4 linked regions of the Homo sapiens genome follow. The protein of the gene in region 1 purifies or fractionates together with the protein of each later gene. This does not show direct contact. Each region holds a gene or a part of one and is shown in the gene's direction. Other genes may lie near its edges.

Region 1 (3,500 bases):
TGTGGAAAGATGAAAGGTAGGGACAGGGCTTCTGGCATGCTGAATTTCAGCTAGGAAAACAGAAATAATGAAAAATTATAATTATTATAGGCCATTTGCAAACGTAACTACTTTGACAATTAATTCTCTGGGCAAATGTGTTCTAATTCTGATTTATAAACATTTGAAATGTGATTCATTTGTTAGATGGGAACTATGTATGGCAAATCAGTGTTGATAAATACATTTGATTCCCTGTGACTGGTGTTAATCTTTCTTGTAGTGCCTTTCACTATTGAATCCAATCCTCATTGTCTCTTGACTCTTTTTCTGTTCTTAGCTGCTGCTAGAAAATAAAACTCCTACTATCCTTTCCTCCTTCAGAACACTTTGTGAATTTTTTCCTTCACACCAGATTACGTAGCCTTGGTCATGTTACTTAGAAATTATCTTTTCTCTTTAGCAATCTTTTATCACCTCAAGGCAGCTCTTGATGTCACTAAAAGGTGGCTTTTACCTGTTGTTTTGACCTTAGTACTTAAAGACTGTTGGTATCATGATTCTGAATATTCTTTAATATAGTTATTGTCAAAGTCCCAAAACCAGTCCTTGCTGTAGTAAGCTGCCTTTACTGATGGAGTTATGTTCTTCAGATGTATTGTAGCAGAAAAAATGCTGAGAGCTCCTTTTTAAAAATTGAGATATAAGTCACATACCATAAAATTCACCCTTTTAAAAGTATGTGATCAGTATAGTGTTTTTTAGTAGATCGACGAGGCTGTGCAACCACCATCACTGTCTAATCCTAGGACATTTTCATGACCCCAAAAAGAAACCCATTAAGCAGTCAGTCCCATTCCCCTCTCTCCCCAGCCGTTGACAAGCACTAATCTACTTTCTGTCTCAGTGGATTTGCCTGTTCTGGACATTTCATATAAATGGACTAATTCAACATGTGGCCTTTTGTGTTTGTGTTTCTTTATTTAATGTAATGTTTTCAAGGTTCATCCATGTGGTACATGTATCAGTACTTCATACCTTTCTATGGCTGGATCATATTGCATTGTATAGATATACCACATTTTGTTTATATATTCATCAATTGGGCGTTTGGGTTGTTTCCACTTTTTGGCTAAAATGAATAATGCTTCGATAAGCAATTATGTGTGACTTGTTAGGTGGATGTATGTTTTCAGTATATACCTGGGAGTGGAATTTCTGGATCATATCCAAAGCAGCTGAGAACCAATTTTGAGTGACTTTACATTGACTTTGGTTTAGGACCAAGTTCTTTGTTCTTTGTGTACAAGACCTGACTAGTCTATTTTATTCCAGGACAGTGCTCACACCATAATCTATTGCAGTAATTCTGAAACAGAGATTCATACAGCTGCTCTCCTCCATCAACTTAGACCACTCTGACCTTTTCCTCAGGCAGCACCTTGTGCTGGAATTTTTTTTGTCTCAGGCAGCACCTTGTGCTGGAAATGCTTTTTTCTCAGTTGAAATGTACTGACAGCCTCAGAAAAAAATCCTAACTACGTATCTTAACATACAACTCCAATAAGTCCCACTTTACCCGTCACCCTGCAAAACATAGTCATTCACTGATATATTATGTAACTACTTCAGTGTATATGTGGTTAATGCTTATGTGTCCTTTGGGTCTTTCAGGTGAATGTTTATGGGTTAAAATTATAGATTTCCTTTAGGGCAATGATTGTGTTCTCCCCAGCTCTTGGCATATTGCCAAATTTTGACAGGTATTTTGTACTTTTGTGTATGTGTGTGTGTGTGTATCTGAAATTCATGTTTGAAAATCTTTTTTCTAAACTTGCTAACATTAAAAGCTTGAGGCATATTACGGGAAGAGTAGAAAAGTAATACCTGTGAAAATACCAGGAGAAGCAAAATTTGATGGGTTTCCTATGTTTTTACCCAGAATGGCACTGAACAATACCAAAATCAATCCAAAGGCAAGAGCAAGCTCGGTAGTTGGCTGAATCGAAATGGAAGGCCAAGGTATTTGAAAATTGAGCCACTAGAAATAATATTTTTTTGAAATATACTTTGAAAATGAACCCTTTAAAATGTGGATCAAATCTGTATTTCTAAAATTAAGGAAAACGTAATTAGTTTCTGAATCACAGTTGGCATTTAATTTTGCCTAAAATCACTGGTCTGTATAGCATGATCGTTTTATTTGAAATTTACCTTTTGTTACATGAGTAAAAAATTATTTAGACTAACTTCTATTCAAGGTAACTCAGTTACTCATCTCACTAGACAAGTTCTTTAAAGTCTATAACTTTATTGTAATCCATGAATTCTAACAAATAATCATCCTACAGAGAGGAATTTTTACATCATGATGAAGGGCCTACTCTGGGTGTTTCTAGACATTTGAATCTATAGGTTGTTTAGAGGACTAAAGGGATTGAATAAAAAGAAAACTTGTCAAGTCGTGCTAATGTAGTTTATATTAAACAAGTCATATTTTTGAGGAAAGAAGGAGTAGGTTTTTTTTGTTTTTCGGTTTTTTTTTTGAGACGGAGTCTCGCTCTGTTGCCCAGGCTGGAGTGCAATGGCGCGATCTCCGCTCACTGCTAGCTCCGCTTCCCGGGTTCACGCCATTCTCCTGCCTCAGCCTCCCGAGTAGCTGGGACTACAGGCGCCCGCCACCACACCCGGCTAGTTTTTTATATTTTTAGTAGAGACAGGGTTTCACCGTGTTAGCCAAGATGGTCTCGATCTCCTGGCCTCGTGATCCGCCTGCCTCAGCCTCCCAAGTGCTGGGATTACAGGCGTGAGCCACCGCGCCCGGCCGGGAGTAGGTATTACCTTTTTTTTTGAGCCAGAGTTTTGCTCTTGTTGCCCACGCTAGGGTGCGATGGCACGATCTTGGCTCACTGTAACCTCCGCCTCCTTGGTTCAAGAGATTCTCCTGCCTCAGCCTGCCGAGTAGCTGAGATTACAGGCATGTGCCACCAGCCTGGCAGATTTTGTATTTTTAGTAGAGATGGGGTTTCACCATGTTGGTCAGGCTGGCCACAAACTTCTGACCTTAGGGATCCGCCTGCCTCGGCCTCCCAAAGTGCTGGGATTACAGGCGTGAGCCACCGCGCCCGGCTAAAAGACTCCCTTTTTTTTTTTTTTCGAGACGGAGTCTCGCTATGTCACCCAGCCTGGAGTGCAGTGGCACGATCTCGGCTCACTGCTAGCTCCGTCTCCTGGGTTCACGCCATTCTCCTGCCTCAGCCTCCCGAGTAGCTGGGACTACAGGCGCCCGCCACTACGCCCGGCTAATTTTTTTGTACTTTTAGTAGAGACGGGGTTTCATCGTGTTAGCCAGGATGGTCTTGATCTCCTGACCTCGTGATCCGCCCACCTGGGCCCCCCAAAGTGCTGGGATTACTGGCGTGAGCCACCGCTCCCAGCCAAGACTCCCTTTAAGTAAATGAGTCTCCTAATGTTTTATTATGTGACTTTCTTTGCAAAAATTAAGTTTATACCTAATTTCC
Region 2 (3,500 bases), on another chromosome or scaffold:
ACAGGTTGATGAACATAGTAAACCTCCTCATCTGAGGCATAGGGAGAGCTGGTCAAGCACTAAAGGAATTTTATCACCTCGAGCCCCAAAGCAGCAACAGCATCGATTAAGTGTAGATGCCAATCTTCAGATTCCTAAAGAGTTAACTCTTGCAAGCAAAAGAGAATTACTTCAAAAGGTAGTTACTATGATTAATCCCATGTAGTCATCATTATCTATCGTCTATTTTTTTGGTATTTTTTTATATTTAAAATATTTTATTTCCTTTTATCACCCCTATACAGACGAGTGAACGTTTAGCATCTGGTGAAATTACACAGGATGACTTCCTTGTTGTTGTGCATCAAATTCGACAGCTATTTCAGTATCAAGAAGGTAAACATAGATGCAATGTACGGGATAGTCCTACAGAAGAAAATAAAGGTGGATTAAAAAAGAAACCTCTCTTATCTGATGCTGAATTAACCTACTATGAACATAAAGCAAAACTGAAAAGGACACAGGTTCAGCATTCATTTCCAAGACTTGATCTCTTAGATCCTGATATTTTTGACTACCCTTTGACTGATGCCTTGTTGTCTGGAATAGAATGTGAGCCATCCAAAAGTAAACATGCAAGTAGGAATAGTGGAGCACAGTTTGACAGAAAAGAACAATTTAGTGAAAGAGCAAGACGTCTTTCTCCTATATCTGGGAGTCGTACTTATGCTGAGAATCTTTCACCCCATGAGGGCCGGAGAAGACATGACGAGCAAGTCTCTGCTAAAGGTAGAAAAAGTTAAATCAGATTATGCCTATTGAATCACACAGCAGTGAAGGGAAAATGAACAAGCTAAGTGGGGATGGATTTTTGTGACTGTTCAGATTACCATTTTTTTTCCCATTTATTTTGTTATGTTTTTTCCCTTTAAGGAAAGGGAAGGGAAGGGAGCTAATATTTCTAAGGCCAGTTGTGTGTCAGGTACTTCATTAGGTATTTTTTATATGTAATTTGATTTAATCCTCACAACAATACAATGAAGTGTATATTCTCCCTATTTTACAGATAGGAAATAAAAGAGAGGTTAAATAACTTGCTCTCAAAATGAAATAATTAGTATGTTGATAGGATGGTAATTTTTTTGTTACTCAGGTGTGTCTGACTCTAGAGGGCATCCTCTTATCTGCTGCTTTACGCTGTCGGTCTCTCCTGCCCCTCTAATGTAGTGAGATAGTTATATATTTGGATAAACATTCATACGAAAATAGAAGATTTTAAGATAACTTTAGTGAAAATAATTTTTTTCCTTTTTAAAAGGTGTGCGAGAAGAGCAGAGATCTCCATTCAATGATCGTTTTCCACTTAAGCGACCTCGATATGAAGATTCAGATAAACCATTTGTAGATAGTCCAGCATCAAGATTCGCCGGCCTGGATACAAATCAGCGACTTACAGCTTTAGCTGAAGACAGACCGTTATTTGATGGACCTAGTAGGCCATCAGTAGCAAGAGATGGCCCAACGAAGATGATTTTTGAAGGACCCAATAAATTAAGCCCTCGAATTGATGGACCTCCCACACCAGCTTCTCTTCGGTTTGATGGGTCACCAGGACAAATGGGGGGAGGAGGCCCTTTGAGATTTGAGGGGCCACAAGGTCAGCTAGGAGGTGGGTGTCCTTTGAGATTTGAAGGTCCTCCAGGACCAGTGGGGACACCTCTGCGGTTTGAGGGCCCAATTGGTCAAGCAGGAGGAGGTGGTTTTCGGTTTGAAGGTTCCCCTGGTCTGAGGTTTGAGGGATCTCCAGGTGGTTTGAGATTTGAGGGACCAGGAGGCCAGCCTGTGGGTGGTCTGAGGTTTGAGGGACATCGTGGTCAACCTGTGGGTGGTCTAAGGTTTGAGGGACCTCATGGTCAGCCTGTGGGTGGACTTAGATTTGATAATCCCCGAGGTCAGCCTGTAGGTGGACTTAGATTTGAGGGGGGTCATGGTCCATCAGGGGCTGCGATTAGGTTTGATGGACCTCATGGTCAGCCAGGAGGTGGAATCAGATTTGAGGGCCCTTTGCTACAGCAAGGGGTTGGAATGAGGTTTGAGGGCCCCCATGGTCAGTCAGTAGCTGGTCTGAGATTTGAGGGACAACATAATCAACTTGGTGGGAACCTTAGGTTTGAGGGTCCACATGGTCAGCCAGGGGTTGGTATCAGGTTTGAAGGCCCTTTAGTCCAACAAGGAGGTGGAATGAGGTTTGAGGGTCCTTCTGTACCAGGAGGTGGCCTGAGAATTGAAGGGCCTCTGGGTCAAGGTGGTCCAAGATTTGAAGGTTGTCATGCTTTAAGGTTTGATGGGCAGCCAGGTCAGCCGTCACTCTTGCCAAGATTTGATGGATTACATGGTCAGCCAGGTCCTAGATTTGAAAGGACTCCTGGTCAGCCAGGCCCTCAGAGGTTTGATGGACCACCTGGACAGCAGGTTCAACCCAGATTTGACGGTGTACCTCAAAGATTTGATGGTCCACAACATCAGCAAGCATCAAGGTTTGATATTCCTCTTGGTCTTCAAGGCACAAGATTTGACAATCATCCTTCACAAAGGCTTGAATCAGTATCTTTCAATCAGACTGGTCCATATAATGATCCACCTGGCAATGCTTTTAATGCCCCATCCCAAGGACTACAGTTCCAAAGACATGAACAAATATTTGATTCACCTCAAGGACCAAATTTTAATGGACCACATGGCCCTGGAAACCAGAGTTTCTCTAATCCACTTAACAGAGCTTCTGGACACTATTTTGATGAAAAAAATCTTCAGAGTTCTCAATTTGGAAACTTTGGCAATATACCTGCTCCAATGACAGTAGGAAATATTCAGGCATCTCAACAGGTAAGTCTGTTATTCTAAAATTGCGTTGTATGCAGATAAGTTAACCATTTTTTAATGTTTCTAGGAGGGTTTTCAGGACATAGTTTATTGTGTAGATTGGAAAGAAGTTTTTAATGTACTCTAAAGCCACATGCTAAGGAAGTGGGATGAGCATCTTTTGGGGATGAAATTTGCAACTTAAATCCAAAATTGATTTTAGCTCTTTCAGGATCTAGGGAAATATCTCAATCAAACCCCCACCTCCAGCTCTGTTTTTTCTTTTTCCTTTTTTTTTGCTTTAAAGCTTTTGAGATATTATACAATTGTGTGTCATAGACCTCTACATTGCAGAACTGTTGAGCCCTGACGTGCTTTAAGGTAGCCATAGAATTGATTGAACTGTTCTTTGACCAAGAATTTCCTTAACCTGAGTTAAATAAGAAGATCAAATTGTGTCCCTGCTTTCACAGTCTACAATTCTTTTTTTTTGGTCCTTTTTTCCTACTTTTTACCACCTTTCCAGTCACTTCAGTTAAACACAATTGTTTGATATTAATGACAACATAGCGAATAGCCTTCCAAATACACTCTGGTTACGAAACATGCACTGTTACCTGTTGGTATTCTTTCACACTTGTTCTGTATACATTTTAAAA
Region 3 (3,500 bases), on another chromosome or scaffold:
GATTTCAGGGTCTCACAACATTTTATGGAGTTCTAAAACTGGAAGCGACCTTAGGGACTACTTTCTATAACTTCCTTTTGACTAAGTGAAACAGGCCTGGGAAAGCTTGACTCGTTTAACCAAGGTGTATAGGTGAATAAGCAGAGGAGTTGTACCACCAAACCAGTATTTATGTCAAAACTAATACTGCTTTGAGGATGATTTATGCTAAATTATCTTCTGATGTTATCCCCTTTCCCCCAAGGCAGCCAATGTTTTAACTCTCCCAAGCAGACAGAGTTATGTGTGGCTGTAGCCAAATTTGGGTACAATATGGAACAGGTGCTTGGCTGTTCTTGGGTGGTTGGTGAGTAGAGTTTCCTAAGCTTTAGTTATTTATGTCCTACCTCCCTCAAGATTTCTACCCTACCCCTGTACCACCTGTACTTTTATTCTGAAGTTTTCTTTAAACTAATTTTTTAAGAAACTTTGTGTTTCCTGGGCAGTACTACACGTGGAGTCATGGATTTATTGAAATATATGTATATATAAAATTTATATCAAATCATGTTTACATACTATTTTTAATCTATTTGATATTACATGCACACACGTATATGATTATACATAATAAAATGAGACCATTACTATTAACACTTTAAAAGTTCATCTGTGTATCGAAAACAACAGTTGTGTTCCATTAGAGATAGCTGTGGTGGAAAATGCTGATTTAATGGAGGAAGTGTGGGCTTCCAAGTTGGGCCAACCTGGATTTAGCTTTTTTTTTTTTTTTGCAATTGTGTGGCCTTGGGCAAGTTGCATAGCCTCTCATTTGTAAATTAGTTTGTGCACTTCAGAAAAAATTTCAAACCAACATTTGTGTGAGAAAAGCCCTCCTCCTGGTAGAAGTTATTCTTGTCACCATAAATGTAATTTTTATTGTTGTTGTTAACCAGTGGTAATATATTTCAGAAAAGGGCTCCCAGAAGGTAGGGTGGAACCCATGAACGAAGACCCATGTGGAGAAGTATGGGGGTGGGGCGGGGGGGAGAATATGGAAGCTTTAACCTGCCTGATGGATTGGTTATATTTTTTTGAGAGCTTGCTGTGCATCAGCATCCTGTAGGACTTCATTATATATTGTGTTATAATACTTTGCTTCCTACAAACAGACTGTGCTCAAGCCTTTAAAGCAGGGAATCAGAAAACTGGCAGTCATCCTTGAGACCTCCTCCTTGCTTATACCCCATTCATCCATCAGCGTCTCTACATCCATGCGCACATCCTGTTCAGTTCCAAAATATATTTCCAATCCACCAGATGCTCTCCAGTTTCACCAGTATGCTTGGTCTCCCTTCTGGCTTCAGGGTGACTTCTCTTCCCCAGGGCTCCTGCATATTCTGTTCTGGTCTTTCTGCCTGGACACCTGTCTAGCCACCCCCTCCCACTTAGCATTCCACTCAGCTCTTCTCACCTTAGCCTGTGGTTAGAAAGGTAGGCTCTGGTGCCAGTCTGCTTGGGTTGGGACCCTGGCTGTCCTGTTTATGTGCCCCTTATTCTCCCTATACTTCATTTTCCTTCCATATAGAGTGAGAGTGATAATACTACTTAACTCATAGGGCTGTTGGAAGATTACCTAGATAGTATATGTAAAAAGCACTTAGAACAGAATCTGTCATAGATTCAGCCCCTATATGTTTGCTGTCATGAACTACTGTCATGCCTGCCCCTTCATCATTCAAGTCTCAGGCTTTTCTGATATATCATTTACAATTATATACTTATTTGCATCTTGCCATCTCCCCCTAATAGGTCAGTTTCATGAGGGCATGGATGAGGTCTGTTTTGGTATGGCAGAAGTACCTGGCACCTGCACAATTAGTTCCTAGAAGGCTGAGGGCACAAATATTTATTGGAACATGAATAAACTTGGGATGAATAAATTAAAAAGGGAAATCCGGTGACTGAGGGCTGTTGGGGAAAGTCAAGGTTAAAGCTGAAAGTATCCTTTGCATCTATCTGCTTTGGAGCCTAGGTTAAGCCTGAAAGTAAAATTAAGCTCCAGAAGTAGGAAGGAAGAGGAGGTTTACTCTGGGACAAAAGAGACTGAAACAGGGCCAGGCGTGGTGGCTCATGCCTGTAATCCCATCACTTTGGGAGGCCGAGGCGGGTGGATCACCTGAGGTCAGGAGTTCGAGACCAGCCTTAACAACATGGTGAAACCCCGTCTCTACTAAAAAATACAAAAATTAGCTGGGCATGGTGGTAGGCGCCTGTAATCCCAGCTACTTGGGAGGCTGAGGCAGGAGAATCTCTTGAACCCAGGAGGCGGAGGTTGCAGTGAGCCGAGATTGTGCCATTGCACTCCAGCCTGGGGGACAGAGCAAGACTGCATCTCAAAAACAAAACAAAACAACAACAACAAAAAACAACAGAAAAAGAGGCCGAAACATTTGAAGAGTAAATATGTGCAGAAAATCAAATTTGTTAGAAAAATGGGTTGGGGCAGTAATGAGATTTCCGGGAATCAGGAGCTGTAGAGCCCCACCAGCAGGGACCTACGGGAATAATGGCCTGGTGTGCAGTGCAGGGGCTGCCCGAAGATATACACAGCATGACTTAGGAGAGCTGGTGGTGATGGTGGTGTCTGCATGCGGATATCCCAGAGTGGTGGTTCTTCAACTTCAGAGGACATTCAGATTACCCTGAAGGCTGGTTGAAACAGATTGCTGGGTCTCTAAGATTCAGTAGGTCTGAGGTCAGGCCTCAGAAATTGCACTGGTGACAAGATCCCAGGTAATCTGATGGTGCTGGTCTAGGGCCCCACTTCGAGAACCCTCACCTAAAGGGAAGACATCCAGTTCTGCAGGGGCTAGAGCATTCTGCTTGATACGAGCAGGGCTGGATTAGACTTCTATGTATGGCTGAAGTTGCAGTAGTTTGGTTTAACAGCCAACCCAGCCAAGATTTGGTGTTCTTGTCCCAGAATTTGTGCCCTCTCTTAGTTCAGATCTAAGGGAATGGACCAGGAAGTCTCAGTCCCCCTCCAGTGGCTTTTTCCATTACACTTGAAATAAAATGCAAACCCTTTACCTTGGCCTTCAAGGCCCTACCAGTCTGGCCCTTGTTCACCTCTGCAGTCATTGCCTGCAGCCAAACAGCCTGGCTTTGAGTTCTGGCTACTCTGTTTACTGCCTGTTTGACTCAGCTTCCTCAACCATGGAATGAGGTTTGTATTTCTTCCAACTTCATAGAGTTGCTGGGAAGAGAAAATGAGCTAATGTATGCAAAGTGTGTAGAATCGTGCCTGTCACACAGGCAGCACTCAACACAGGTCAGCCACTATTAGCTGATCCCTTATTAAAGGATGCTGGGGGTCTCCTGTTGTACTTAACCATAACAGCCACAAGATCCTGCCTTTCAAGATCTGGGCTTTGAGTCACCCCTTCCAACTTGCTGTGTGGTGGGACCACAGGCTGCCTCTCTCTTCTTCCAACAGGCCTAGCTTCTTTGTGTATAGG
Region 4 (3,500 bases), on another chromosome or scaffold:
TTAATGTTAATAGCTAGCATTCATACCAAAGTATCATTTTCATTTTGCTATTTGAGGCTGAAATATGTGACTTCTTTAATTTATGTGTATTTGCAGCATTTCAGGTACCTTTTAAAATCCATAGAGTTTGTGAGGATTATATGTACATGATTGAGTTCACTTTTAGGTTTTTTTCAATTGTGGTACAATATGTAAGTTGATCCAGGTGACATAAGTTGTGATAATAATTTTTCTCTTGATGAAATATCCCACCTCTTATAGTTAATACCTTTTATTTTAGTCTTTCATAACATTTCATGACAAAACTGCTCTTATTTTAGTATTCACATATTATATCTGTAAGTAGCTGTAGACTTAAAAATTTTCATTTTCCTTTTTCCAGATCATATTTGTTTGTACTGATTAATAAAAGGAGACCTTTCCAAACCAGAGAAATATCATTGAACCAGGGATTAGTAGAGGTAGACTTTATTTACACAATCTTAGGCCAGTCACGTAACTTCTCTGGTCGTTTGTTTTCTCATCCATAAAGTATTGAAGTACTTTTAGATAATTTCTTAGGTGCTTTCATTTACCCTTAAAAACTCTTATCATCCCATATGTTTTCCTACCACTGTTAAAGACAAGTATAGCCAGGCACAGTGGCTCACGCCTGTAATCCCAGCACTTTGGGAGGCCGAGGCGGGTGGGTCACAAGGTCAGGAGTTCAAGACCAGCCTGGCTAACATGGTGAAACCCCTTTTCTACTGAAAATAGAAAAAATTAGCCGGGCGTGGTGGCAGGTGTCTGTAATCTCAGCTACTCGGGAGCCTGAGGCTGGAGAATTGCTTGAACCCGGGAGGCGGAGGTTGCAGTGAGCTGAGATTCTGCCACTGTACTCCAGCCTGAGCGACAGAGCAACACTCCGTCTCAAAAAAAAAAAAAAAAAAAGAAAAGGCAAGTATAAAAGTTTCTGATAAGTGACCTAATAATTATTTCCACAAGGGGGAGCCTGAAAACTAGAGTTTACATAAGATGCCTTAAGTTTCTAAGACGGTGGGTTTATAGTAAAGGATTTAAGTACCTTTATGCTATATAATAAACTTTTTTGAGAAAAAAATTGCATCATATAGATAAAACTAATAAGTTTTGAAGAATCTGAAGAGGGCGTCATATTCTTTAGTCAAGACTGTTAAATACCATTCAGAGAAAAATCATGTCCTTTTTTATTAAACACTTAGCATTTTCTTACTTTTAAGATTCAGAAAAATGGCTGGGTGCAGTGGCTCATGCCTGTAATGCCAGCACTTTGGGAGGCTGAGGCAGACGGATAACCTGAGCCCAGGAGTTTGAGACCAGCTTGGGCAACATGGCAGAACCCCGTCTCTACATTAGCCAGGCATGGTGGTGTGTGCTTGTAGTCCCAGCTATCCCAGCTATGCAGGAGGCTGAGGTGGGAGGACCTCCTGAACCTGGGGGATTGAGGCTGCAGTGAGCTGTGATCATGCCACTGCACTCCAGCCTGCGTGACAGAGTCAGACCCTGTCTCAAAAGAAACCCAAAAACCAAAAATAAATAAATAAATAAAAGGTTCCAAAAAAAGTTTGGTCTGTTAGTTATGATTTATATTTAATATGCTAGTTATAATTTAGGGAGTTTTATTTCCTTTTTTTTGATTGTTTTTGGGGTGTGGGTAAGAACTTGTACTCAGGGTTTGAATCCTAGCTTCCATACATACTAATTATGTAACTTTAGGGAAGTTATTTACAGTTGAGATAATAGTATTATAGTAGTACCTCCTGGAATTGTCATAAAGATCAAATGAGATTATACATCTAACATGTTTAACAGTGTCTGTACAACAATCTTTTTAGTTAATATTACCTATTATGATTATATATAAATATATTTATGGGGTTTTCTTTCCCTAACTTACCCTTTTATTTTAGTCTCTATGAAGAAGCTGCAGAAAATTTGCATCAGCTGTCAGACAAGCTTCCTGCTCCTGGTAATATTTTATGACTGCTTTCAATAATTTGTATCTTATCTTATTACACTTTATGAATAAATGATAAATTTGTTCTTTATGTTAGTGTTCTCACTCTAATCTTTAAATTAAAAAATGCAAAACAATTTTTAATTGAAGTTGATACAGAATGTATCCATGGGAGTACATTACCGAGATGTAGCAGTTCTTTTCATTGTTTTCATTTAGTTAGGCAAAAATTAGAACTTTGGACATTAAATAACTATCTCTGTTTCTTTAGTTATTGCTGAAGAAGAATCTTCCTGCTACAGACTGTTGCTTTTCAGAGTATGTTCTATAGAAGACTAATCCTATAAACAGCTCTTTAAAAAGGAGATTATTTAGCCTTGATGATTTGGATAACATTCTTTTATGGTGAAGTTACTATATGCATTGTCAAATGGAATGTCATACCATAAAAGAAAGTGTTTCCTCAGCATTTTTTTATAGAACCTATTTTTTTCCCCATAGTGGAAAGAATACCTGTGACATACTGTATCATAATATTCCTAAAACTGGTTTTTTTCTTTTTTCCTTTGTGTTAATCAAGTAGCTGTCATCTAATATTTGGTACAGTTGGTATCCGCAAATACTTTGAAGAGTATTCTTTTCTGAATGCTTTATTGAAGGTCATTAGTAAGTAAATATTTGTACTAGGAGCCAAGTGTACCATGATGAATAAAGCATCTGTGATTAACATAAAGGAGCTTTTAGCTTATAGTCAGCCAGATCTCTATATTCAAGGAGATCATATATTAGTACAAAAAGCCCCACATAGAAAAATAACTGAATGAGTTGACAAACGTATCAACTTTTAAAATGAAATGTGTTGAGGTCAAAGTATGCACTGAAATATTACATAGTTGTTTTGGCAAATTAGAATACTTTCATTATCAAATTTATCTCCAGTTTGTTTCATTTTGATTTTTGTAGTCCTTCAGGAAATGTATAATTTTATAAAATTTAAAGTTTTGTGAAGTTATTTTTTCTCAGGATCCAATGATGATGTCAGTATAATTGGTTTTCAGAGTGTTTTATTGTCCTTTATAAAAGAGACATCATTTATTTGAACATTACAGTTTTGCACTTATTCATTCTCTTTTGGATAACAAAATTATGTTTAGAAAAATATAATGAAATTGCACAGGTTTTTTTTTTCTCTGTTGAGTACAATAGCATTGATGATCATGAGAGTGATGTGTGTAATTAACCACTGCTGCAGAATTGGCAAGTAATTATGATATAGTTTATTGTTTTCTAGTATATGCTAGCTATTTCAAGATAACATGGCTTTCAATAAATGATGAACATTTAAAAAGTTTGAATTCCTAAGGGCGTATATTGTTTTGGAGAATTTCAGAAATTAAAACTAAAAGCTTCCTTTGTCTTCTAAATAAATATAAAACTAATTTTTCTAAATAAACATAAAATTCAGTTCTTCAGGGTACTATTTTGAGACATTTCAGATCTAACTTTTTAAAAATTACAAAAATGC

The links. The genes of interacting proteins can lie anywhere in the genome.
Region 2: the proteins of CDK8 (region 1) and PCF11 purify together in Homo sapiens (affinity purification with mass spectrometry; one large-scale study listed by BioGRID and IntAct). This does not show direct contact.
Region 3: the proteins of CDK8 (region 1) and MED12L purify together in Homo sapiens (affinity purification with mass spectrometry; 5 studies listed by BioGRID and IntAct, with this or other methods). This does not show direct contact.
Region 4: the proteins of CDK8 (region 1) and MTBP purify together in Homo sapiens (affinity purification with western blotting; 2 studies listed by BioGRID and IntAct, with this or other methods). This does not show direct contact.

Annotation. Positions count from the first base shown.
Region 1 is NC_000013.11:26,260,629-26,264,128, forward strand, and holds part of CDK8 (cyclin-dependent kinase 8), read left to right. Parts: intron 1-3,500.
Region 2 is NC_000011.10:83,167,131-83,170,630, forward strand, and holds part of PCF11 (pre-mRNA cleavage complex 2 protein Pcf11), read left to right. Parts: coding exon 1-178; intron 179-284; coding exon 285-768; intron 769-1,297; coding exon 1,298-2,865; intron 2,866-3,500. UniProt on the Homo sapiens protein: Component of pre-mRNA cleavage complex II, which promotes transcription termination by RNA polymerase II.
Region 3 is NC_000003.12:151,088,664-151,092,163, forward strand, and holds part of MED12L (mediator of RNA polymerase II transcription subunit 12-like protein), read left to right. Parts: intron 1-3,500. UniProt on the Homo sapiens protein: May be a component of the Mediator complex, a coactivator involved in the regulated transcription of nearly all RNA polymerase II-dependent genes.
Region 4 is NC_000008.11:120,451,919-120,455,418, forward strand, and holds part of MTBP (mdm2-binding protein), read left to right. Parts: intron 1-1,928; coding exon 1,929-1,987; intron 1,988-3,500. UniProt on the Homo sapiens protein: Inhibits cell migration in vitro and suppresses the invasive behavior of tumor cells. May play a role in MDM2-dependent p53/TP53 homeostasis in unstressed cells. Inhibits autoubiquitination of MDM2, thereby enhancing MDM2 stability.